Regions from separate parts of the Homo sapiens genome. Here regions 1 and 2 are each linked to region 3. Evidence: fine-mapped expression QTL. A gene starts in region 3. Each other region holds a variant in brackets. All regions are shown on one strand. Distances are between the middles of the regions. Region 1 overlaps SCUBE1 (signal peptide, CUB domain and EGF like domain containing 1). Region 2 overlaps TSPO (translocator protein). Region 3 holds the start of TTLL12 (tubulin tyrosine ligase like 12).

Region 1 (8,172 bases), 36 kb before region 3:
GGAGGCTGAGGGGGAGGAGGAGGGTCACTCGGGGTGCAGCAGCCTCAGTGGGGCACAGTTGCAGGGGATGTGGCAGTGCCTCCTGGAAAGCCCATGGTCCCTGCCCCCTCTGCAGGCATGCTCGCAGCACTGGGTGCCCCTAGGCTGAGTTCTGGACGGGCCCCTGCGTTCCCTGGTTCCCTGTACATGGGACCCTGTCTGGGTGCTGGGGCTGTGGGCCTGCCCTCCTGGAACCTCCACGCCGGGTCCTTGCCCCGCCACACTCTGACATCCCCAGGGCAGCCTAAGTGAGCCTTTTAAATGTAAGTTAGAACATCCCTCTGGGCTCAGAACCCCGCCCCCACCCCCACCCTCCGCCCCTTCCAACCCCGGTAACTCCTCCTTTGACTCTGAATCAAAGCCACAGCGCTTGGAATGGCCCGAAGGCTGCCGCCAGCTGACAGGATTGCCCTCTGCTGTCTCCCTCGCTTCACGCCAGCCTCACTGACTTCGCAGGGCCTCCACCAGCCCTCAGCCCGAGGCTGTGCGCTTCTCTTGGCCTGGAGGGCCCCCCCACACCAGCACTCCTCACTCCTCCCTTGCTGTGAGGGTCTGTGAGTGAGGCCTGCCCCATCACCCACCCAGAGCCGCAGCCTTGGCCACTTCCGCACCCATCTGGGCCCCCTGTGCTTCCAGCTTGCTTTCCCTCCCATCACACTCCCAGCCACCAGAAGTAATGTGCACTTTACAGGTTCGTGTTGGTGTATGTCTGTCTGTCTGTCCATCTCTCTCTCCTCACTAGAATGTAAGCTTTACACAGTTAAACAGGTCTTCTTGGCCTGTCCCATTTACTGCTAGAGCCCCAGCACCTGGAACAGACCCTGACAATCACAGACACAGAGTAAATATTTGTCAGTGAACACATTAACGAATACAAACCATCATTTAATATCTGAAATCCAAAGGCTGAGTTTATCACGTACTTGTGGAAGGACTTGCTGTGCTTTTCAGGCAAAGTCTCACTGAACAAAGTCAACTGCTGCTCTTCTGCTGAGTTTTGGGAAAGAGCTTGTTTGGGGTTGTACGGGTGGCGGAGGCAGCATGAGGGGATCTCCGTCTTACAAGCATAGGAAGGATATGGTACCTTCAGATTCTTTGCAGGAAAGCGTTGTTCATTGAGGGTGTTAGGGGGTCATTGCTCTGTGGTGAGCAGGTTTACGCAAACCTGCCTCCAAAGGGCAAGAAACTGAGTGGCAGAAGAAAGAGGCTGACACATTTAGTTTCTCAGAAAGAAACATTTGGCCGGGCACGGTGACTCACGCCTGTAATCCCAGCACTTTGAGAGGCTGAGGTGGGCAGATCACCAGATCACCTAATTTTTGTATTTTTAATAGAGACGAGGTTTCACCATGTTGGTCAGGCTGGTCTCGACCTCCTGACCTTGTGATCCACCCACCTCAGCCTCCCAAAGTGCCGGGATTGCAGGCGTGAGCCACCGAGCCCGGCCGCTTCTACTGCTCTTTACCATCTGTTGCTTTTGAACTTTTTCTTCCATCCAAGATCCTAACACTTAGGTGAACTCATTGTGATACAGATCTGATCATCCGGGACAATAACTATCCAGCGATATCCTGAATTCTTAAGCAAATGTTTGTCTGTCTCCTGGAGTTTAGGAAAATTTCCTTCAGCACTCAGCATAGCTCTAGACGTGGCTTTACATCCAGCATTAGAGATCTGATTTCTGGCTTTCCTGGGATAAACCCTAAGGGAGGAGTTGCTTGTGTAGGAGATGGAGGGGCAGGAGTGGGGGGGTGATGCGATAAGTGGCTGGTGAAGATGGAGCTGGGCAGAGAGAGTGGCAAGTGGATTTCGGAAGGTTTGAGTGGGAGGAAACTGAGGCCAAGGTATACCAGTGGCAGAAGCTATTAAATGATGAAATTTTGTCTCCTAACATTTTAGAGCTCCTCTTAAATATATTAATGTATTAGTTTTGATGTGTCAGAAGTTCCCACAATGACCAACGTTATTCTAAGCTGGTGGTGGTAGTTGTCGCTGTTTAGGTTTTGTGGTGAGTAGGGGGCAGTTTGCCATTTACCAGGACAAGCACAAGTTAGGATAATAGTCTAAATTCATAAGGCTGCAGGAGTTCAGCCAGGGAAGTTGCAGCCTTGGCATAACCAGCCCATGATCATCACTTTCATCAGTCAAAAGTGTGTGCTTAGCATGACGTTCCGGTTCCCCCAACCAGACACAGGCTGGAAAGGGCCGTGCAGTCAGTGACCTGACAGCTGTGACCCCAGAATATGGAGAAAACAAAGGGGCCTCCTTTCACGTGTTGGCAGAACAGGAGCGCCCTGAGGAAGATTTTAGAAGGGACCCAAGGAAAGCCCTGCCTAGTTGCCTACAGGAATTGGCCCCTAGTATCATAGACCTCTGACCATTGATCCTGGGGGCCAGCTTGGATTGAGTTGGAAGCATGCAGGGCCTGTGTCGCCATCTGGTCCCCAAGGAGCACCCTGTTATCTATCCATCAAACACAAGACAAGTCAGAGCACAACAAAACTCATGGGATAAACCTTTATCTAATAGTCAAGCAAAAGCAAAGTGCCCAGCAGCAGAACACACAGGTAAATGTGTGTCTCCGAACACAAGGTCTTGCTCCCCAGCCAGAGGCCCACTTGCTAACAAAGCAGTCAGCACGAGAGAGCAGCAAAGCAAGTGAGAGCTCAGAGTGTTGTCACACGGTGCCCTCGCAGAAAGCAATCAGCAGGACAGACAAAATGTGGGCCCCGGGGGTTGACCAAGGACACCTGTGGCCCACGGCACCCAAAGGACACTGGGAAGCAAGGGTTTCTAAAACAATCTTGGAGGAACCTCCAGAATTACCAAAGGATGAGATCAGCCACCGCTCAGTATCTGAAACCAGAAAGCTGAGCTGTCGCTTAAGTAAGGGGGAGCTGTGTTGGTCAGGCAGGCTCAGGGAGCAAAGCAAACTGCTGATCTTCCCTGGGGATTTGGGGCAAAGCTTATTCCAGGCAGGTTGGGATTAGGTTGATGGGAGTCTAGAAGCATGGCCTGTGTGGGTTACAGAAGGGAGGTGACTTGACTGAACCTGGAAGCCTGGTTACACTGGAGTAACTCCACATTGATGACTGACCAGAGTGCGAGGCTGTCACTCATGAGGTGGCTTTCAGAGGCGTGCCACATAAGCCGGTTGTCACCGACCAATTAGCCATCTGTAAAATCAGTTCTGGTATTTACCATGGCTGTAGAACCGTCCGTCTTTTCCTAGGAGTCCGGGGGACTTTTTCATCCTCTAAAGATAAGTAAGCAAGTGAGAAATTCTGGAGGGCTGTTTCTCCAGACACCTGATGGCTGTAGCAGAGGCTGCCCCAAAGAGGTGCTTCCGAGCGATCCCCCCCACGGCCCCTCCCAGGAAGCCAGTGTTCATTTAGCGCCGTTCCTTTCCCCAGTGGGAATGGACGCCTGCCCTGGAGAGCTCAGCCCTGCCCTCAGGGAGTTTCTGATCTGGGGATGGGGACATGAACCTTCTCACAGCCAGGATTAGAGCCTGAAGGGGAGGAGGGACTAAGCCAGCTGTCTGGGCCCAGCATCCCCACACGCCCAAGGGACCTGCGATCTCCAGGCGCCTTCCCACCAAGCCAGCCCAGCCATGGAAGAAGGGAGTTGGGGGAGTCCCCATTAGGCCATACCCAGGACCCTCCTGGCTCCAGGAAGCCTCCGCCCTGGCCTCTCTCAGCCCTCTCTCGTATCTCCCTTCATAGAGACAGGCAAGTGTCTTTCTCGCGCCAAGACCTCCCCCCGGGCCCAGCTGTCCTGCAGCAAGGCAGGCGGTGTGGAGAGCTGCTTCCTTTCCTGCCCGGCTCACACACTCTTCGTGCCAGGTAACCCGGGCCGTCCCTGAGATGGGATGCTGTGGCAGGGGGGTCTTCCTCCCTGGGGTCCCACCATTGCTCCCAGCTGTCCTCCAGGAAAGAGTCTGACCTAGGAATGAGGGTCTCTGATAACTGAGTGACCCTAAGGCAGCTGTCTGGTTTTCTGTGGGCCTCGCTGTCCTTCTCAGTAAACCCAGTGGGCTCCTTCCTCCTGGCCACTTCCCTGTGGTTGTGTAGCAGAAACTGGCAGAAGAATCTGTCCTGATCTTCGTCTCACTCCACAATCCCTCTGAGGCCCCAAGAATCTGAGGGCCGTGGGAGGGAGGAGCACCAGGCCCACCTCACCCACCGGCTTCTCTGCAGACTCGGAAAATAGCTACGTCCTGAGCTGCGGAGTTCCAGGGCCGCAGGGCAAG[G/T]CGCTGCAGAAACGCAACGGCACCAGCTCTGGCCTCGGGCCCAGCTGCTCAGGTAACCCCCCCGGCCTGTCCATGCTGCATGCCACTGGGTGACTTGACTGCATCCAGCAACATGCTGGCGGGGGAGGAAAGGGCACCGCCCAGGGAAGACCTTCCTGCTCTCGGCCCTGCTCCGTGTGGCCTGGGGTGCTGGCGATGAGCCAGGCCCAGGACCTAGAAGCCAGCAGGCTGCAGGCCGAGTTCTAGCCCAGGGTCAGGGGACCGTGGGAGGGCCCTTCCGGCTCTGAGGTCACAGCCAGAGTGGTTCAGGGACTCTAACGTGCTGTGAGTGCACAGATCTCAGACTGTATGGGTGGAGCAAGCCACATCTGCTGTGGCTATTAGGTTCTCCCGAGTCAGAGCTGGCCTGGCCGTGCAGAGCATGCCAAGAAGCGCCGAGGTGCAGCACAGTCCCAGCCCTTTGGGAGTGACCCGCTGGGCTTGGTCGGCATGGCACAGCCAGCCTTAGCTCCTGCCAGCTAAGGAGCTGAGGGTTGTGTCTTCAGCAGCTTTTCTTATTCAGGATGCTGGATTTGATAGATAGGTGCATTTCTGTATGTTTCTTTATTATTATTATTATTATTTTTAAAACGGAGTCTCGCTCTGTCACCCAGGCTGGAGTGCAGTGGCGTGATCTCGGCTCACTGCAACCTCCGCCTCCCAGGTTCAAGCAATTCTCCTGCCTCAGCCTCCTGAGTAGCTGGGATTACAGGTGCCCATCACCACACCTGGCTAATTTTTGTATTTTTAGTAGAGACATGGTTTCACCATGTTGGTCAGGCTAGTCTGGAACTCCTGACCTCAAGTGATCCGCCTGCCTCGGCCTCCCAGAGTGCTAGGATTACAGGCGTGAGCCACCGCACCCTGCCCATTTCTATATATTTAATGCATATGTGATTTGATTCTAAGCACCTGTGGTGGTAGGATTCTTTAGTCCAAGGGCTATGATTTGCTCTTGCAAGGAACCGGCAGTCCTGGATCTATAGTATTTCAAAGCCCCTTCCCTTCCTTGCTGTCCTATCTCTCTTCTGTTCTACGCTCTTTCCTAAAGCACAATCATGGCTTGCTGATGGGGAGGAGGTAGGAGGATCCCTGTCCTCCTTCTCAGAAGACCTCTGGCGGGTGGCCCCTGGGCTTGAGCTTGACCCCACCATCCATGTGTTCACCTGTTTTAGGCCTTGCAGGGAGAGAAATGGGGCAGGAGAGGGTCCCCCACCCCAGGAGAGCTGTCGGGGCACAGGGACTCAGATCAAGCCCCACCCCCAGCTCCAGATGGATTTGTCCCCTGGCAGCCCCCGTCCCCCACCACCTCCTTGCCTGCAGGAGAGGCCACCACCTGGGGGAATTTTGGCTTTCCCCAGATGCCCCCACCACCCCCATCAAACAGAAGGCCCGCTTCAAGATCCGAGATGCCAAGTGCCACCTCCGGCCCCACAGCCAGGCACGAGCAAAGGAGACCGCCAGGCAGCCGCTGCTGGGTGAGTGGGACGCCCTGCTCCTAACCCACACCAACGGGGCTGTAGGAGAGTCCTCATGCCTGGGAGCTGGGGCCCCAGGGTCCAGCGAGTCTGGTTTCCAAGGGTGGAGGTCTCTCTCACCTGGCAGCTGTTTATTGAATGAGAGTTTCCAAGGACATTGCAGGCTGGGGAAACAGCGGAGGGCAAGCTTGGTACGAGGGGCCCCGGAGGAAGGCACCAGCTCTGTCCCCGTGAAGATTCCTTCTCAAACCTAACAGAGCTCTCAGCACGCAGCAGGCTCTGCCCAGAGCCGAGTCTGCACTGGCCAAACCCTCAGCAGGCCCAGAGCTGGGGGCACAGCCTCATTCATGAATATGTATGAGATGCCTCCACCTGCAGCAGCGTGATGGACCGGGCGTGAGACCTGGCTCAGCCACCAGCCCCTCCTGAGACCCCGAGCCAGCCCTGACCTTCTCTAGCCTGAGTTTTTCCGTCTGCACCACGGACCAGGAAGTCCTTGCCAATGGCACTCTGTATGCAGGGCTTGGTAGGACCTTGCTCCCTGCCCCATGCCGCCTTTGCCACAGTGGTCCTTTCCTCGTCCAGACCACTGCCATGTGACTTTCGTGACCCTCAAGTGTGACTCCTCCAAGAAGAGGCGCCGTGGCCGCAAGTCCCCATCCAAGGAGGTGTCCCACATCACAGCAGAGTTTGAGATCGAGACAAAGATGGAAGAGGCCTCAGGTAGGTGAGGGGTTCTCCTGGGGGCTTCTGCAGGCCTGAAGGAGGACGACAGGCTGGTGGCGCTGCCGGGGGCCTGCCAGGCATGAAGCTAGGCTCCCACCAGAGCACAGCTGTGGCTGGGATGGGAGCCCAGCTTCTGGAGACAGAGGCAGGCCCACAAGCAAAGGGAGCTGGCAGGGGTCAACGCTTGCAGCCCAGGATAGAAGAGGCAGCCCAGGGCAATGAGACAGAAGAGCCGAGGTGACCTCAAAAGTCACATGACCCTTATCTGCCCCTCCACACTCCTGCTGGGACCCGGGAGGACAAATAGGTGCAGCCCCCCTAGAATGGTTGAGCCAAGGATTGTCTTTCCTGGTTCCTGAAGGAGGTTCTAATGCTGGCTCGGGTGTCACAGCAGCACTTTGCTCTTGGCTATATGTGAGTGTCAACCTGTGAGTCGTTGATGTTGAAGAGATGGGATCTGTCAGCAGATAAGTGTGGTATGGGCCTGGCTGTGGGCTTGGGCGCTGTGGAAAGAAAAGTCCCCACCCAGGTAACACTCTCAGCCAGAGAGGCAGACGCACGTGCAAACCACCCATTGCCAGGTGGGACTCTCGGTGGTGGGGGCACAAGAACAAACAATGCATAGAACTGAGGTCTGCCCCCCACGGGAGGGCTTAGGAAATGTCTTAGTCTGGCTGGGCACACTGGCTCACGCCTGTAATCCCAGCAGTCTGGGAGGGCCAAAGTGGGTGGATCACTTGAGTTCAGGAGTTCAAGACCAGCCTGGCCAACATGGTGAAACCCTGTCTCTACTAAAAATACAAAAATTAGCCAGGTGTGGTGGCAGGCACCTGTAATCCCAGCTACTCAGGAGGCTGAGGCAGGAGAATCGCTTGAACCTGGGAGGCAGAGATTGCAGTGAGCTGAGATCGCGCCACTGTGCTCCAGCCTGGCGACGAGTGAGACTCTATCTCAAAAAAAAAAAAAGGAAATGTTTTAGTCTATTTGCGTTGCTAAAAGGAACACCTGAGGCTGCATAATTTATCAGGAAAAGAGCTTATTGGCTCTCGGCTCTGCAGGCTGTCCGAGAACACGGCAGCAGCATCTGCCTGGCGAGGCCTTAGGCTGCTTCTGCTCACGGAGGAAGGTGAAGAGCAGCTGGCATCACATAGCAAGAGTAAGGGAGCAAGAGAGAGGGGAGGGGGTGCCTATGTCTTCACCAGTCACATCTCGTGGCGACTAGTAGAGCCAGCAAGAACTGACTACCACACCAGGCCATTCATGAGGGACCTACCCCATGACCCAGACACCTCCCACCAGGCCCCACCCCCAGCATTAGGGATCAGATTTCAACATGAGGTTTGGAAGAGACAAATATTGAAACCATATCAGGAAGCTTTCCCAGAAGAGGTGCCATTTGAATGAGAGCTTAGAATCAAAGCTCACTGGGTGGAAAAGGTGGCAAGGAATGGCATTCAGGCAGAGGGAATAGAATAGGCAAAGGCACAGAGGTCAGAGAGAGGAGGAGGTGTCCAGGAAGCAGTAAGTAGGGCCAGGTGGCTAGACATTGGAATCCACAGGGAGTGTCAGAGTGGAGGGGATGAGGCTGGCAAGGCCATACGGGGCTGGACCTTGAAGGGCCTTGGATTCAAGGCCAGA
Region 2 (8,172 bases), 21 kb after region 3:
ACAGTAAGACCTGGAGCCCAGACTCCATCTCCTGCCTCCTGTTTGGACCCTGAGGGTTCGGGGTTGGCTGCCTGCTCCTGGAACCCCCACCCAGTGTCAGAAGCTCCTGGTCCAGGCAGTAGCAGGCTGCCTGCTCCCGGCCCAGCGGAGGCCTGTACAGAGCGTGATGGGCCCTGTGTCTGTTGCAGGTGCACTGTGAAGAGTTCATCCCCGAGTTTGAGAAGCAATACCCAGAATTTCCCTGGACGGACGTCCAGGTAATTCCTGTCCTGCACACCATCGCAGGCCGGTGGGGCGGGTCCCGGGCTGGGGGCCTGCAGGAGCTGCTCCCTTCCCTCTCTGCTGGCATGGGCTGGGAGGGACCTTTGTCCCCTGCAGTTGGTCATTCTCCCCAGAGGCTGGCAAGACAGCGTGGGCTCCCCTCCCTTCCACCCTGGGCATTTGTGGGTGCTCCTGAGAGGGAGGGAGCTGGAGGGGCATGTGGGGCACCCCTGGGACAGCCAGAGGGTGGCGGCACTGCCTGACCCTAGATTCCCAGTCATATGGAGACGTTGGCTGGGCCTCCATGTCCAGCAGCGGCATTCTGGGTGCTGTGTTGAGCTCCTTGGGGCAGTGGGGAGCAACGGGGTCTGCGGCAGGAGATGGGCAGATTTGCAGAAGGTGGGCGTCAGGAGTAAGAGGGCAGGTGCTGGGCGGAGGTGGCCATGGTGAGGTCTAGAGACGTGAAGATGTGGGAGGGGGTGACTTGGGCCACGTGGGGCCCGGGACTTGGGCAGGGGCAGCAGACCCCCTCTTGAGAGGCTGTTCTGAGCAGGCCTCGTAACTCAGGCTCCCCGGTCCCCAGGCTGAGATCTTCCGGGCCTTCACGGAGCTGTTCCAGGTGGCCTGTGCCAAGCCACCACCCCTGGGCCTCTGCGACTACCCCTCATCCCGGGCCATGTATGCCGTCGACCTCATGCTGAAGTGGGACAACGGCCCAGATGGTAAGAGGGGCTCCCCATCTCCTGATCCAAACCAGCAGGCGCCCCCTCCGCCAGCCAGCCACAGCCTGGAGAAGGCAGGCAGCTGCCCCAGGCTGTCCTCTGGCTTGAATCAGCCAGGAATCTGGGTTGGGGAAAGCCCTGGCTTGGCCCACAGGAAGTGCCTGCGGTGCAGAGTCTGGAGGGGAAAGGCTGCGGGTTGGGCCTCTGAGTCGGGGGAGAGCTCACAGGACAGGAGACCCGTGTGAAAGGCACCCTGACCCCAACCCACACCACCCTGGCTGGCCTTCCCTGTGCCAGACCCCCACACAGTACACTGCTGCTGCATATCTACTTTTTTTTTTTTTTACTAAACTGAACATCCAAGCTTAAAGGGCCAGGCTGTCATCCCTAGGGCTGGAGGCAGCCCTGGCCTCTCCTAGAGAAGCAGATGTCAGGCCAGGCCTCCCCAGCAAAGTCAAGAGACCCAAGTTCTAGGCCCGGCCTTGTCCTGCTCATCCCCTGGGAATCAGGGCCCAGGTTCATGGCCTCCCAGCCTTTGCTGGATCCCCAGGCCACTGTCCCTGCAGAGTGGAGGCCAACGAGCCTTCACACTCTGCTGCGCTCTTTGCCATCAGGAAGGCGGGTGATGCAGCCGCAGATCCTGGAGGTGAACTTCAACCCCGACTGTGAGCGAGCCTGCAGGTACCACCCCACCTTCTTCAACGACGTCTTCAGCACCTTGTTTCTGGACCAGCCCGGTGGCTGCCACGTTACCTGCCTTGTCTAGGCACTCGCTGTCCCCAAAACCTGTGCTTGGGGCAGGATTCCAACCTCAGTTCTCTGAGCTGCTTCTGCAAAGGCCCCCATGTCCCTCCCCACACCGGCCCTGGGCATAGCCTCAGCCCCAGGCCTCTGTCCTGCCGAGCCATCCTCCCGGCGCCACACTCCGGGAGCACAGCATCCTCCTCTCACCTGTGGGTCAGAGCAGGACAGTGATGGTGTCCCCAGGGCTGAGCACCACCCCACGCCCTGCCCTCACCCCTCACCACCATCTGTGCACTGATGAGTCTCCAGTTTAGCCAAGGGCTTTGTTCCTGGCATGGAGAATTTGTTCCTGGCTGCTGTGTTTCCAGGGGGTGCTGGGGGAAGGGTTCCGTGGAGCGAGACAAGGTGTCCTCGGGAGCAGGGTTCCACCGGGAAGCGTTTGGGAGCCCTGTATCACACGGGGCAGGCGGGTTTCTCTTCCGGGGTCTCTGCTCTTATGCATCAGGACGACCCCGGGACGGCTGTGGGGCCCCACACTGCACCCACAGGGCTCTATGCGACAGGGGCCCAGGAACAGCCTGAGGCCACCACCCAGCAAGCCCGCCTTATCACCCATTCCAGCTCACCCAGAACCTTCACCAGCAAACCTCCTGCTGAGGTCCTGGCAGGAGGCCACCGTCTTGTTACCGTTTCCTTTTCGTTTGCTGAGGGTCACAGACCCCAACAGGGAAATCAGTATCTGTCTTCCCAGTGGTTGCCCTGCTCGCCGGGCACTCCACGGGGTCCCGCCCTTGTGTGAGATGGGCCAGGATCCTTCGGCAAGGGGCGCCTGGGGCTGGGGCTGATTGTGGGCGGTGGAGCGCCAGACAGAAAAGGATTCCAATGAGAACTTCAGGTTAAAGTCAGATGCCACCTACCAGGGTCTACAGTCAAAATGTTGGCTTTTTCTTATTTTTTAATGTATGGGAGAAAAATGTAAAATTCCAGTTCTTTTCTAATTGTGTTTCTGAAATTAGGAGTCAGCTGCCAGCGTTTTTGTGTGGCTGCAGTGTGCCTGGGCCCAGCTCACGGGCAGTGGGTGGACCTAACTGCCCAGGCAGGCGAGAGCTACTTCCAGAGCCTTCCAGTGCATGGGAGGGCAGGGCTAGGTGTAGCGGTGTCTCCTCTTTGAAATTAAGAACTATCTTTCTTGTAGCAAAGCTGCACCTGATGATGCTGCCTCTCCTCTCTGTGTTGTCTGGGCCCTTGTTTACAAGCACGCGTTACCCTTCCTGAGGGGAGCCATGCTCTAGCCCCTGGAGGGCCTGTTGCAGGGGCAGGGCGGGCCCGTCGCCTTTGGCAGCTCCTGGAGAGCTGTGGACATGCAGTCCCCCTCAGTTCGTGCTGCAATAAAGGCCATCTTCTCTTATTTCTGCCCTCCTTTCTCTTTGGACCCTGGAGCCACAGGCTCAGCCTGGCCTGTCGCCCCGGCTGTCACTGAAAAGCCCCGGATACCAAGAAGTCACCCACAAAAAGTGGGAGAAGAAATAAGATGGCCTTTATATCGCAGGCCTCCACCCCACAGTCTGATTTCCATGTGCTGGATCTGTTTCCAAGCCGGC[C/T]GGGAGCCTCGGTCCTCGAGTGGCCCCACAGCTCTAGTGGCCCTGGAGATAGCAGCCTCCCCACACTTGCCTCCTTGTCCTGGGGTGGGGACGGTGAGAAACCCTGGCTGCTGGGGCGTCTGCAGGGCTCCTCGGGCCACTGCTGAGCAGGTGCATGGACACCGTCAGTGGGTGGAAGCAGCGCCACATGGTGACCAAGGAGGTTAAGACTCAGAAGGCAGGCCAGGCATGGTGGCTCACGCCTATAATCCCAGCATTTTGGGAGGCCGAGGCAGGACAGAGAACAGGTCACACAAAGTCAAGAGATCGAGACAGTCAGACAGCATGATAAAACCCTGTCTCTACTAAAAATACAAAAAAAAACAAACATTAGCCGGGTATGGTGGTGCGCGCCTGTAGTCCCAGCTACTCAGGAGGCTGAGACAGGAGAAACGCTTGAACCCAGGAGGCGGGGGTTGCAGTGAGCCAAGATCACACCACTGCACTCCAGCCTGACGACAGAGTGAGACTCCGTCTCAAAAAAAAAAAAAAAAAAAAAGCGGAAGGCAGAGCGGCCCTGAGGCAGGCTGCCTGTGGACTGTGCTGCTTCTCTCCTTAGCCTCCCTTCCAGGGCAGGTCTCAGGACTGATGCTCACACGGACTCTGTCCAGAAGCTTAACAGCTGGTGCTCTCACTAGTTCCCAGCTCACTTAAAACCTGGTGCCCAGGAGATAGTCCTGCCCAGGGAGCAGCTGGGACAGCCCCCAGAATCAAGACCACATGGTCCAGGCTTTCCATGATTGTAGATGGCTATTCTCTGTCCCCACATGTCCTTGCACCTCTGCTCACTGCAAATGGACACCCCCAAGGAAGGCCAAGAGCCAGGGACTTCATGAGCCGGAAGACCAGCCGGCTCCAGGTGCTGAGGCAGTTGCCGGGAGATGTTTATCCCACTAAATACTTCTTCCTGGTACTCATTTGCACCCTCATCACTGTGTTAAGAAGCCATCCAAAGCCGGAATTGACCAGGCACAGTGGCTCACGCCTGTAATCCCAGCACTGTGGGAGGCTGAGGCGAGCGGATCACTTGAGGTCAGGAGTTGGAGACCAGGCTGCCCAATGTGTTGAAATCCCATCCTACTAAAAATACAAAAATTAGCCAGGCATGGTGGTACACACCTGTAATCCCAGCTACTCTGGAAGCTGAGGCAGGAGAATCACTTGAACCTGGGAGGCAGAGGTTGCAGTGAGCCAAGATGGCGTCACTGCACTCCAGCCTGGGCGATAGAGCAAGACTGTCTCAAAAAAAAATAATAAATAAACCCACTCAGAAAGCATCAAAACCTTAAGTTCCCAGTGGATGACAGCAGCTTAGAAAAGGAGAGAATGCTGTCTGTTACGAGCATTTCCTGGGGAAACGTCGCCAGGCTGTTAAAAGGAAGCCGGCAGACGAAATGCTAAATGCGTTCTCCTCTCGCCCATTTTTCCAAGGCGTTTTGTGGCAGTGCGTGTTTTGTGGCCAGCAGGAGCTATGTGGGACATTTGTTACAGATGAACAACCCCACGAGTTGCGGAGATGGCAGAAGTCTGGGTTGCACTTTCTCCAATCCCTAAGTGTCTGGCACGGACTCAGGTGTCCCTTGACACTTCAAAGGATACCCCTGTGCCCTGCGGGGACGGTGCATGCTCACCGGCATGCTGGAGCAGGAGACAGCCTGGCCTGTAAGTTTCTTGCTAGCAAGGACCTCTCTGCCATCCGCTGCTTGGACTGTCTGCACAGAGCTCTGGAGGAATTCAACTCTGGGCGTCTTGGAGAACTTCAGAAATAAGTTAATAAAAAGGATACACAGAGGCTCCCCAGCTGGCTCCTCTGCACCGGTGAGCATCGGGAAAGCCATGAGGGCTGAGGGCTCAGCTGAGTGCCCGTGGCCGCAGAGTTTTTGGATCCTGCAGAGCGTGATCTGTTGGGCATCAAACTCTGCCAGAGTCAAGGGAGCGGGAGGCTGAGGGTCAGGGTGGAGTAGCGCAGCCCCTGGGCGGGAGCCATCCCTTCTGTCAGAAGAATGCAGTCGACTGTCTACCCATTTCCCTGAGCTGTTCGTTCTTTCGTGTGTGTGTGTGTGTGTGTGTGTGTGTGTGTGTGTGTTGTGCGTGCACCAGAGTGGATGGTATAGACAAGAGTCTCCCTATGTTGCCCAGGCTGGTCTCAAACACCTGGCCTCAAGCAATCCTCCCGCCTCAGCCTCCCAAAGTGCTGGGATTACAGGTGTGAGCCACTGTGTCCAAGCTTTTGTGAACGTCAGGTTGTGTCTGAGCGTACAGGTCGGGAGAGGACACAGGAGCCGGGGGAGAAAAGAGGAAGCAGCAGCCGCGGGCTGTTGAGTGATGACGAGCTGTCTATGAACATTTTGCCAATTTGAATGAACTTAGCTGCCAAAAACAAAAAACAAAAAGCCCGGCAGGTCAGGCCTGGCCGAGGGGAGGGAGCCGCGGGCTGTGTTGCTGAGTGCTGCATGGGTGTGGTGACCGAGAGCAAGACGGAGGAGTGCTGCGTATGGGACTCGGCTCATTTACTCCAAACAGCTGCCTGGAGAGGCCATGGGTCACCCAGTTCGAAGCCGGGGTGAGGGAGTGAGTGGCTGTGACACCTCCAATCCTGGCCGCTCTGGGCCAGCAAGGAGGCCCTGTCTGCTGGAGTCGGGACCTAACCTTTCCTGCCTCTGACTCCCCCTCGAGCCAACTGGGTGTTTGCGGGGCTATCCCTGGTGCAGTGAGGCTGCCATAAGCCTGGGCCCCCGGGGGACAGGGCAGTCAGCACCCCCAACTCTGTCCTGGGTAAAAGCAGCTGAGGGCCACGCACTGGGCAGGACCAGGCGTCGAACAGTGGTTGTGGGCCCGGCCATTAAAGGGCCCGGGCTGAGCATCCCGGAAGCCATGGGAAGCGGACAGGACCCCCTCCCTCTGCTGAAGCCCACGGCCCCAGCTGGGTCTGCGCCAGTGTGGGCCCCAGGGTGGCACCCAGGGCTGCTCTGTTCATCTCCTGCAGGGCTTCGGGAGCGTCCCAGGAAGCGTGGGGCAGCCCCAGCTGGATCCAGCCCTGTCTGGAGAAGGCAGCCCAGGCAGATCCTGCAGAGACGAGCTCCAGTGCAGCCCCAGCTCCCCCTCTTCCCTGTGGCCAGGGGTCCCACCCAAGCAAAAAGGCCATGGTAAAGGAAGTCAAAAACTTTATTCAGCTTATAAAATTCCATGTTCCAAGAACATGCTCTAAGCATGCAGAAAGCACAGGACACTGCTCCCGGGTGGGGGCTCAGGTGGGGCCACCTCTGAAGCTCTGCTGACCCCTGGGCCAAGGCCCTGACAGACTAGCAGGCCCAGTGGTCATGAAAGCGTGACGGCCACCACATCACAAGCGTGATGGCACCTGCTGGTGCAGCTGCAGTCCCTGGTGGGCCGGGCACTCACTCTGGCAGCCGCCGTCCCCCACGCCAGCCATGGTTGTCCCGCCATACGCAGTAGTTGAGTGTGGTCGTGAAGGCCAGCCAGGCCAGGTAGGGGTAGAGCAGGCGGGCGGCCAGCGGGCTCACCTGGTACCAGGCCACGGTAGTGGCTGCCGCCGCCCCACTGACCAGCAGGAGATCCACCAAGGCCTGCAGAGATTGGGGGACGGAGGATGGGGAGGCCTGAGGCACCGCGTTCACCCAAGTGCCTGTCCCACTGCCCAACTCCCACTGGATTTGGGAGTCAGGAGCCTCACTCACCCCCACTCCACCCTTGAGTGACCTGGCCAAGCCCCTCCCCCATCGCAGCCTCAGTTTCCTCATCTGTAAAATGGGAACAGTCATGCCACCTGACCCATGCCTTGTGTGGGGTGCACATGACATGCCTGAAGTGAACTCGGTTTGTTCAAGGGTGCGGTGGTGGCTTAGGAGGTCTTGCACGTCCCTTCCCCTCTCTGAGCTTAGAGCCTCCACTGAGAGCGATGCTGACCTCCCAGCATTACTACAAGGCCCAAACAAAAACTTGCTATTTGTCAGGTGCAGTGGCTCACGCCTGTAATCCCAGCACTTTGGGAGGCTGAGACGGGTGGATCACCTGAGGTCAGGAGTTCAAGACCAACCTGACCAATATGGTAAAACCCCGTCTCTACTAAAAATAAAAAAATTAGCCAGGCGTGGTAGCACGTGCCTGTAGTCCCAGCTACTCAGGAGGCTGAGGCAGGAGAATTGCTTGAACCTGGGAGACGGAGGTTGCAGTGAGCTGAGATCACGCCACTGCACTCCAGCCTGGGCAACAGAGCGAGACTCCGTCTCAAAAAAAAAAAAATACAGAAAATTAGCTGGACATGGTGCTGCATGCCTGTAATCCCAGCTACTCGGGAGGCTGAGACAGGAGAATCACTTGAACCTGGGAGGTGGAGTCTGCAGTGAGCCGAGATCATGCCACTGCACTCCAGCCTGGGCAACAGAGTAAGACTCTGTCTCAAAAAAAAAAGGCTGCCGGGCACAGTGACGTGACCTGGAGTCCCAGCTACTCAAGAGGTAAAGGCGGGAGAATCAATCGTTTGAGCCCAGGAAGTCGAGTCTGCCCTGGGCAACACAGCGAGTCTTCATCTCTTAAAAAAGTTTAAAACTTTAAAAAAGAAGCAGTCAGCCGGGCGCGGTGGCTTACACCTGTAATCCCAGCACTTTGAGAGGCCAAGGCGGGTAGATCACCTGAGGTCAGGAGTTCAAGACCAGCCTGGCCAACATAGTGAAACCCCATCTCTACTAAAAAAATACAAATACAAATACAAAAATTAGCCAGGAGTGGTGGTGCACACCTGTAGTCCCAGCTACTCGGGAGGCTGAGGCAAGGGAATCACTTGA
Region 3 (8,172 bases):
AGGATTGCTTGAGCCCAGGAGTTCAAGGCTGCAGTGAGCTATGATTGCGTCACTGGCCACTGCACTCTAGCCTGGGCAACAAAGTGAGACCCTTCCTCAAAAAGAAAAAAAAGAAGAAGAAATGTTACATATTGCTCTTTGAGAAAGTTCACTGGTACTTGTAAGGGTTTGGGGAGTTAGTAAGCTCAGCTTGGTGAGCCTTATTAGTCCTAGAGTTGCAGTCAGTTATCTCAGAAGTTATCAATAAATGGTTTTAGGTTACCACAAGCAGTTTCAGCAGTCGGGCTTACAGAGAATTACATTTTGGGAACAATGCCTTGCACCCCAAATGCTTTTTCCCTCTTGGCTTCTCAACTCTGTTTTAATTATGACAAGAATGACCCAATTTTTTTTTTTTTTTTTTTTTTTTGTGAGTTGGAGTCTCACTCTGTGGCCCAGGCTGGAGTGCAGTGGTACGATCTCGGCTCACTGAAACCTCTGCCACCAGGGATCAAGCAATTCTCCTGCCTCAGCCTTCCAAGTAGCTGGGGTTACAGGCACCGCACCAAGGCTAATTTTTGTAGTTTTAGCAGAGACGGGGGTTTCACCATCTTGGCCAGGCTGGTCTTGAACTCCTGACCTAGTGATCTACCCACCTCGGCCTCCCAAAGTGCTGAGATTACAGGGGTGAGCAACCACGCCTGGTGACCCAATTCTTATGATCAACTTTCACAAAGTCATTGTATTGGGTTTAGGCTCCATGTTGTATGAAAAACCCATTTTGTATGAGTACCCTTGGCAAAGCTCTCAGAACAAAAAGCTATCAGGGACCAAAGGTCAACCTGGGCTTGGATTTTCAGGATGGAAGGGCCTTTTTTATTTTTAGACGGAGTTTCCCCCAGGCTGGAGTGAGTTGATGCGATCTTGGCTCACTGCAACCTCCATACCCCCACCCCTGGGTTCAAGCAATTCTCCTGCCTCAGCCTCCTGAGTAGCTGGGATTGTAGGTGCCCACCACCATGCTCGGCTAAATTTTGTATTTTTAGTAGAGATGGGGTTTCACCATGTTGGTCAACCTGGTTTCGAACTCCTGATCTCAGGTGATCCACCCGCCTTGGCCTCCCAAAGTGCTAGGATTACAGGCATGAGCCACTGTGCCCGGCTATGGAAGGGACTTTTAAACTCTTTTTTTTTTCCCTGTTTCTCTCTCTCCTTTTTTTCAATTGTCTGGAGGGGGAGGGGGTTGGTGGCAGTAATGGGAGCAGAGCAGTAATTTTATGTTGATTAAATACACATTCTTCAGTGCCTCTTTAGAAGACAACATTTCAGCTGAGAAGAATGAGTCAGGATTTACAAAGTGAGCATGGGGAGAAAGGCTTTCTGGCAGAAAACAGAGCACAATGCTTTCCAGGAGCTGAAGACAACCAGAGATACAGGGACTCACAGTGTGAGGGGAAGAGTGTAATGAAAAGAGGCTGGAAAAGTTGGCAGTGCCAGCTCACACAGAGCCTTGGAGCTCAGGTGAAGAGTTGAACCACAAAGGGTTCCAAGTAGGGATCTGATACAACTGGGTTTACATTTGGGGAGGAGCATGTGAAAGAGGACTGCCCTGTCAGAGCCTCACATTCTCCTGGTCAAAGGGGCTGGGTCAGGAATGTTCACATAATCTGACCAGTACCTGACACAACTGAGACTCAGTCTGTCTTCCCCAGCGGGACCGATGGAAGGGTTGTGGAAGCGGGAGGTGCACTAGGTGTGTACCACTATACCTGGCTAATTAAAAATTTCTTTTTGTAGGGTCGAGGTCTTGCTTTGTTGCCCAGCCTGGTCTCAAACTCCTTATTTCAAGTGATCCTCCTGTCTTGGCCTCCCAAAGTGCTGGAATTACAGGTGTGAGCCAGCATGCCCCATCCTAGCATTGTGATGCTGTTTTACTATATTATTTATTTTGAGATGGAGTCTCGCTATGTTGACCAGGTTGGAGTGCAATGGTACAATCTCAGCCTTGGCTTCCACAACAAAAACCGAGGAATCAGGGTTTTCCTCTGGCCATGGTGAAACCCTGTCTCTACTGAATACAAAAAATTAGCCAGGCGTGGTGGCACACACCTGTAGCCCCAGCTACTTGGGAGGCTGAGGCAGGAGAATCACTTGAACCCGGGAGGCAGAGGTTGCAGTGAACCGAGACTGCACCATTGCACTCCAGCCTGGGCAACAAGAGCAAAACTCCATCCCAAAATAAATAAATAAATAAAATGTTTTTCTCTGCAGCCCTCACCAACTTGAGTTTGGAAATTTTTGCCTTTGCAGACCCACCTGCTTCCTACAATGGAATTGAACAAGTCCGTGAATTGGTGCATTTTATTCAAACTCAGTTCAAAAATGTTATCAAAATAGCATCTGAAGCTCCAAAAAATTTTCAGCCTTTGTTTTTTAGCAAATTACAATTCTTACAAAATTGCAAAAAGGAAGACATTGAAATGTATCCCTATGGAGCAATAAAACTCAATGAGAGTTCAAAAGAGAATGTCTTTTGAAATTCTATAACTGAACTGTTTTCTTTTAAAGAGGGAGTCTGGCTATGTTGCCGAGGCTGGACTTGAATTCTTGGGCTCAAGCTATCCTCCCGCCTCAGCCTCCCGAGTAACTGGGACTACAGACGCGGCCACCACGCCCAGCTCAACTGCACTTCGAAACATCCCGACATGTAGGAGTAAATTCCTCTGACGGGTACACTTGGTCTTAATTGGATCAACTGACATTCCGAATCCAAATATAAGTAATTGAGAAGGGCCACGATTTTGCAGCATCCAAATCTGGTGAAACGCTCACAAGAATCGAGAGCTCCCAAGGCAGGGGGCCTGCGAGCTCTGTGTGCCCGGTGCAGGCACAGAAGCGCCGCCTCACCGGGTTCGGGCCCCAGGACACCTTCCGGGCCGTCGGTGGGGCCTTTTCCGGTCCTGACAGCGCCCTATACGTAGGCACCCCGCCCTCCCGGCATTCCCCGGGGTCGCCGCGCGCTGAGCGAGAAAAGCTCAGCCACCATCAGGTGCGCGTGCGCACACGGCGGCAGCCAAACCACAGGCGCGGTCGCAGACGCGCGCCCCCTCCTGGCAAGCTCGCGCGCTCTCGCACGCACCCCGCCGATGCGCAGGGCCTGCCCGGGGGCCGCGGCAAACCGGGCTGGAGGCGGACTGGGGGCGGGGCGGGACGGGGTGAGGGGGCGAGAAGAGGGCGGGGCAGGGGAGGGGTCGGGGGGGCCGGGAGGAGGACGGGGCGGTGGGGAGGGGGGCAGGGGGCGGGGGCAGGGGGCGCGGCAGGGGCGGGGGGCTGGGGGGAGGACGGGGCGGTGGGCGGGGGGCTGGGAGGAGGACGGGGCGGGGGTGCTGGGAGGCGGGCGGGGCGGGGGGCGGAGGCGGGGGGGGCTGGGAGGAGGGCGGGGCGGGGGGGGGCTGGGAGGAGGGCGGGGCGGGGGGGGGCTGGGAGGAGGGCGGGGCGGGGGGGGGGGCGCTGGGAGGAGGGCGGGGCGGGGCAGGGGGCGGAGGCGGGAGGGCAGGGCCGACGGACGGCGGGCGGCGGCGGCGGTGGCGGCGCTGGAGTCGGCGCGGGTGCTGGCGCCATGGAGGCCGAGCGGGGTCCCGAGCGCCGGCCTGCGGAGCGTAGCAGCCCGGGCCAGACGCCGGAGGAGGGCGCGCAGGCCTTGGCCGAGTTCGCGGCGCTGCACGGCCCGGCGCTGCGCGCTTCGGGGGTCCCCGAACGTTACTGGGGCCGCCTCCTGCACAAGCTGGAGCACGAGGTGCGGGGAAGGGCGGCGGGCACGTGCGGCGGCCGGGGTGGGAGCGCGGCGGGAGCCCGCGGCGCGGGACAGGGAAGAGCGCTCCCGGGCGGCGGGAGCCGCGGTGAGCCACCCAGAGCGCGTCCTGGGCAGCTCTGGAGCGGCGTGGAGTTGGGGGCCGAAGAGTGACAGCAGGAGACCGGGGTACCTGCGGCCCTGATCTGCCCGGGCCCGAGACCGGCTGAGGGCTGCGTTGGGAACTTTAGGTCCTCCACACACCCGAGCCTGACACAGCCCTGCGAGGAGTGAAACTCATCACCCCCACTTCACAGATGAGAACACTGCGGCTCCGAGAGTCCCTTCAGAGGGATTCTTTCAGCCGCTGCCTCACAGGGACAACGGGAACCCCGTGAATTTGTGTAGCTGTAACTGTTGGGTTCACAGAATTCGGTGTTTTTTCATTTGATTTGAGCCTCGGGGTCCCCTCATCTTGCAGGTTAAAGAAAACAGGCTGTGAGAGGTGGAGGAGAAATCTAAAGAAAAATGGAAAAGATTGAGAAGCCTCTAGGTTCTCTCCCTTTTTGTGAGGACGGCCCATCCGGCTCACCTGCCTCCTCCACTCCAAAGCGTTCCCCACTGTCCTGGCTGGGGATGAGCCCTGGATTTTTATTGCGTGCCCAGAGGCTGAGGCCACAGCACCTTCCCGGGCTGGCGGGGGGGGGGGTGTTTTCTTTAGCTGGGACCCGACATCTCCTCCAGGTGCTGTCTCCCGGACGGAGATGAGCCTAGTGGCGCAGGTGATGAAGTGGAAACCCCAGAGCCAAGAACAGGGACCCGGGCCGGGAACTAGGAGTCCCTGAGCCTGGCTGCTGGCCAGACTCTACGGTCTCTGAGCCAGTTTTTCTCTGTGTAATCCTGATTGGACTAGGAACCTTCCTGCTGGAAACGTGCAGTGAGTGGCACCTCCTTATGCTACAGTGTAACAGAGAGTTTCCTCTGCCCCTCACTTCTGCCATATGCTTTCCGAGGACCACTCTGGTCCCAGGCCTGTGCTGGGTGGAAGGGACCTTGGTTTGTTCATGAGGACAAAAAGGTTCCCATGGGCTGCGTGGAAGGAGCACAGTGGGAATGACCAGCTCCTGCCCAGCCAGCCTCCACGGCAGCACGCCCTCCCTCGGGCGGTCACTCGCCCGTCTGAGACCTGTTCTCCATCTGGGAAGGGGATGGTGAGACACCATCTGGCTCCCACAGTATTGGAAGGATGGGAGGTGGCATGAGAAATATGCCTGGCACACAGAGGGTGGTCGCCACCGTGCCACGTCCCCTGCCCAGGCCGCCTTGCCTGCTGTTGCCCTACTAAGGGGCAGCCAGTGTTTTTCCGTGACCCTTCCCCAGCCGTTAAGGACAGAGCTGAATCACTGCTTTACCATTCACAAACTTGCAGCTCTTCCTGAGTGAAGCCTCCTGCTGCTACTGGCCCAGGTGTGGAGGAGGCCGCCAGCAGCAGCAGCACCTGCCAGCGCTGTGGGCCCTTACACCCCTGGCCATCAGCCCTCCTGCCTCACCTTAGGCCGGCTGCCCTGGAAAGGATGGGGAAACTTGAAGATACATACATATATATATATATATATATATATATATATATATATATATATATATATATATAATTTTTTTCTTTTTTTAATTGAGACGGAGTCTTGCTCTGTCACACAGGCTGGAGTGCAGTGGCATGATCTCGGCTCACTGCAAGCTCTGCCTCCCGGGTTCAAATGATTCTCCTGCCTCAGCCTCCCGAGTAGCTGGGATTACAGACGTGCGCCACCACACCCAGCTAATTTTTGTATTTTTAGTAGAGATGGGGCTTCACCATGTTGGTCAGGCTGATCTCGAATTCCTGACCTCGTGATCCGCCCGCTTTGGCCTCCCGAAGTGTTGGGATTACAGACGTGAGCCGCCACGGCCGGCCGAAGAGATGTTTTTAAAATGTCTACTCTTCTGTCTGCACAAGCTTCCCAGTTGCAAAACCACTCCCCTTATCTCCTGGGGAGCTCTTCCAGTCCTGCCATGAAGGGGTTGTGGTGAAGGAGAAACCCAGCACCCCATTTCACAGCTGGGTTGAATCCAGGCCAGGCTTGAGACAGGCTCTCTGACCCTCAGCCTCACGCTGTCCCCTAGGGATTTGGAGTACTGGGGCGGAAGCCCGAGGTCTGGATTCCAGCCCTCTGAGCCTCCCCCCAGCCCTAAACTGGAGAAGGCAGTAGCCTCCCCAGACCCACCTTGAGGGCTAAAGGAGAACTGGATGGCTCTTGTCTCAGGTGCCTTGTCTCTCATGTGACCCCTGGTTTGCTCCACCCTGGGCTATCTGCCTCCAGGCCTTCGCTCTTACTCTTCCCTCTGCGTGGAGTTCCTTTCCATCCTCACCCCGTAGCCTCATGTTTAAATCTTCCCCTTCTTCAAAGCTGGCCTCTGGTTATGGTTCCTCATCCATAAAGTCTTCCCAGGCCCTCCAGGCCCCAGAGCAATTTACCTGATACTCTTAGGTGGCCTAGACCTTACTCAGCCTGAGCTTCCTGAGCGAGACCTTGAGTGATTCATCCTCACGCCACCAAAGGGCAAGTCCTGCCCAGTGCACAAAAGCTGCCTGCACCTGAGTACTTAGCTAGTTTCCAACTGCCGTTTTTAATCGAGTAGTGGGAAATACGTTTTAGGGAGGAACTGGCCTTTGTTGAGCCTCCACTGTGCGCCAGGACTTTATGCACGCTGTTTGATTTCATTCCATCAGTGTCCTGAAAGGTGGATGACACCCCCTCTCACAAGTGAAGAAACAGTCTCAGAAGTGTAACAATGGCGCCACGTGTTTATAGAGCATTTGCTGTGGCCAGGCTCCACTCTGAGTTCTGGGTATGAATCACCTAATCCTCCCAGTAGCCCTCAGAGGGAGGTTCTGTTATTCCCATTGTGTGGATGAGGAAACACGCATGGGATAGTTAAGTAACTTGTTCAAGGTCACTTGTCTAGGAAGTGGTGAAACCAAGATTTGAACCCACACAGCCTGGCTCCAGAATCTGCCCAGAAGCCCCCCTTGCCGGCTTGTGGCAGACAGGGCGTGAGTGTGGCTGTGCCAGGGACCCCTCTGCTCCACACACACCAGAAGAGGTCACTTGCCTGCTTGACTAGCCGCACAAGGCAGGACCAAGGCCCTTATCTCCCCATCCCACCTTGACCTGGGGCCTCGCTTCCTGTTGGCCTGGATTGGGTGGGGCTGGGCTGGAGGAGGCTTCTCTGTGAGTTGACTCAGCTGTCCTAGTGTTGAGGGGTTCTTCTGGTGAGGGGGGCATTGGGGTGTGCCCCCAGCCACCAAGATCCTGACTCTTCCATTGACCTCCAGTGTAATTGGAGCCACCCTCTCTGCCTTTGGGGCCTCTCTTTCTGTGTAATGTGAGTGGGGTGGACTACAGATACCTCCAGCAAGTCCTCAAGGTCCCATCTCCATGCACAGCATCCTGTGGGACGAGGCTCTGGATGACAGCTCAGGTGACGGTGGGGTACATTAGGTCCCTGTTCCGAGCCTGAAATCTCCAGGAGCTTCAGTCTCCCCGCCCGTAAGACTGTGTGGTTGCATTAAACAGGTCCCACACCTCTGAAGGAGACAAGTTTGTCCTTGAGGCCTGGGTGTGGCACCTCGGGTGGCTTTCTGGAGTGGTGAAGGCATTGGGGTGGGGTCTCCTGCCCACACCCCTGCTGACGGGAACTCTGGCCCCCAGGTTTTCGACGCTGGGGAAGTGTTTGGGATCATGCAAGTGGAGGAGGTAGAAGAGGAGGAGGACGAGGCAGCCCGGGAGGTGCGGAAGCAGCAGCCCAACCCGGGGAACGAGCTGTGCTACAAGGTCATCGTGACCAGGGAGAGCGGGCTCCAGGCAGCCCACCCCAACAGGTAGGAGCCTGGCCAGAGACACCACCACAACCTTCACTTGGTGAAAGGTGGGAGATGCAGTAATGCAGATTCTCCTGGGCCCTGCACCGCCGCTGGACATCTTCCTTAGGACAGCTTTGTGGCAAGCACGTGTGGCCAGCGGTGTGTCCATCAGGGCTTCAGAGTACTGTCCGTGGCAACACAGCGTTCCTGGGGTGACCGGATGGACCGCGGCCTGAGAGCCTCTCCCAGCGGTCTCATTGTCACAGTGGTCCTGCTACAGGGGATTAGAAGTTCCAGTTTTGCTCGAGGTCACCCTCCAGGTTAAGGGTGCAGGTCAGCCTTACTCCTCCCCAGTCACAGCCCCTCTCTGGTCCTGCTAAATTGGAATCTGGGGTGGGCCCTGGAACACCTGAGGACCTGAGACCCAGAGCAGGCCTGGCCTTGCCAAGGACCACGGTGTAGTTAGGGCAGAGCTGAGACTGTACCCCAGGCTTCCTGCCCC

What was found. PIP is the estimated chance that this variant, and not a neighbour inherited with it, causes the effect.
Region 1: its variant is fine-mapped to the expression of TTLL12 in thyroid (GTEx, PIP 0.98).
Region 2: its variant is fine-mapped to the expression of TTLL12 in monocytes (TOPMed, PIP 0.94).

The regions. Positions count from the first base shown.
Region 1 is chr22:43,218,809-43,226,980 of GRCh38, reverse strand. It overlaps SCUBE1 (signal peptide, CUB domain and EGF like domain containing 1), which reads left to right. Exons shown (of 22, transcript NM_173050.5): 11 at 3,765-3,884; 12 at 4,239-4,343; 13 at 5,692-5,808; 14 at 6,394-6,531. Among named protein-coding and RNA genes, the nearest start is that of SCUBE1-AS2, 10 kb to the right of the region's middle. RefSeq lists enhancers at 1-548, 549-1,115, 6,233-6,734 and a silencer at 1,736-1,901. The variant G/T (reference allele first, on the strand shown) is at 4,292.
Region 2 is chr22:43,161,585-43,169,756 of GRCh38, reverse strand. TSPO (translocator protein) reads right to left here. Exons shown (of 4, transcript NM_000714.6): 4 at 6,515-6,954. The coding sequence ends at 6,766. TTLL12 (tubulin tyrosine ligase like 12) reads left to right here. Exons shown (of 14, transcript NM_015140.4): 12 at 189-257; 13 at 845-983; 14 at 1,598-3,135. The coding sequence ends at 1,749. Among named protein-coding and RNA genes, the nearest start is that of TSPO, 14 kb to the right of the region's middle. RefSeq lists enhancers at 1-692, 693-1,549, 5,705-6,207, 6,208-6,711. The variant C/T (reference allele first, on the strand shown) is at 3,329.
Region 3 is chr22:43,182,496-43,190,667 of GRCh38, reverse strand. It overlaps TTLL12 (tubulin tyrosine ligase like 12), which reads left to right and starts at 3,534. Exons shown (of 14, transcript NM_015140.4): 1 at 3,534-3,775; 2 at 7,519-7,688. The coding sequence starts at 3,599. RefSeq lists silencers at 3,121-3,240, 3,489-3,648, 3,689-3,908 and enhancers at 4,289-4,348, 4,359-4,438, 4,379-4,883.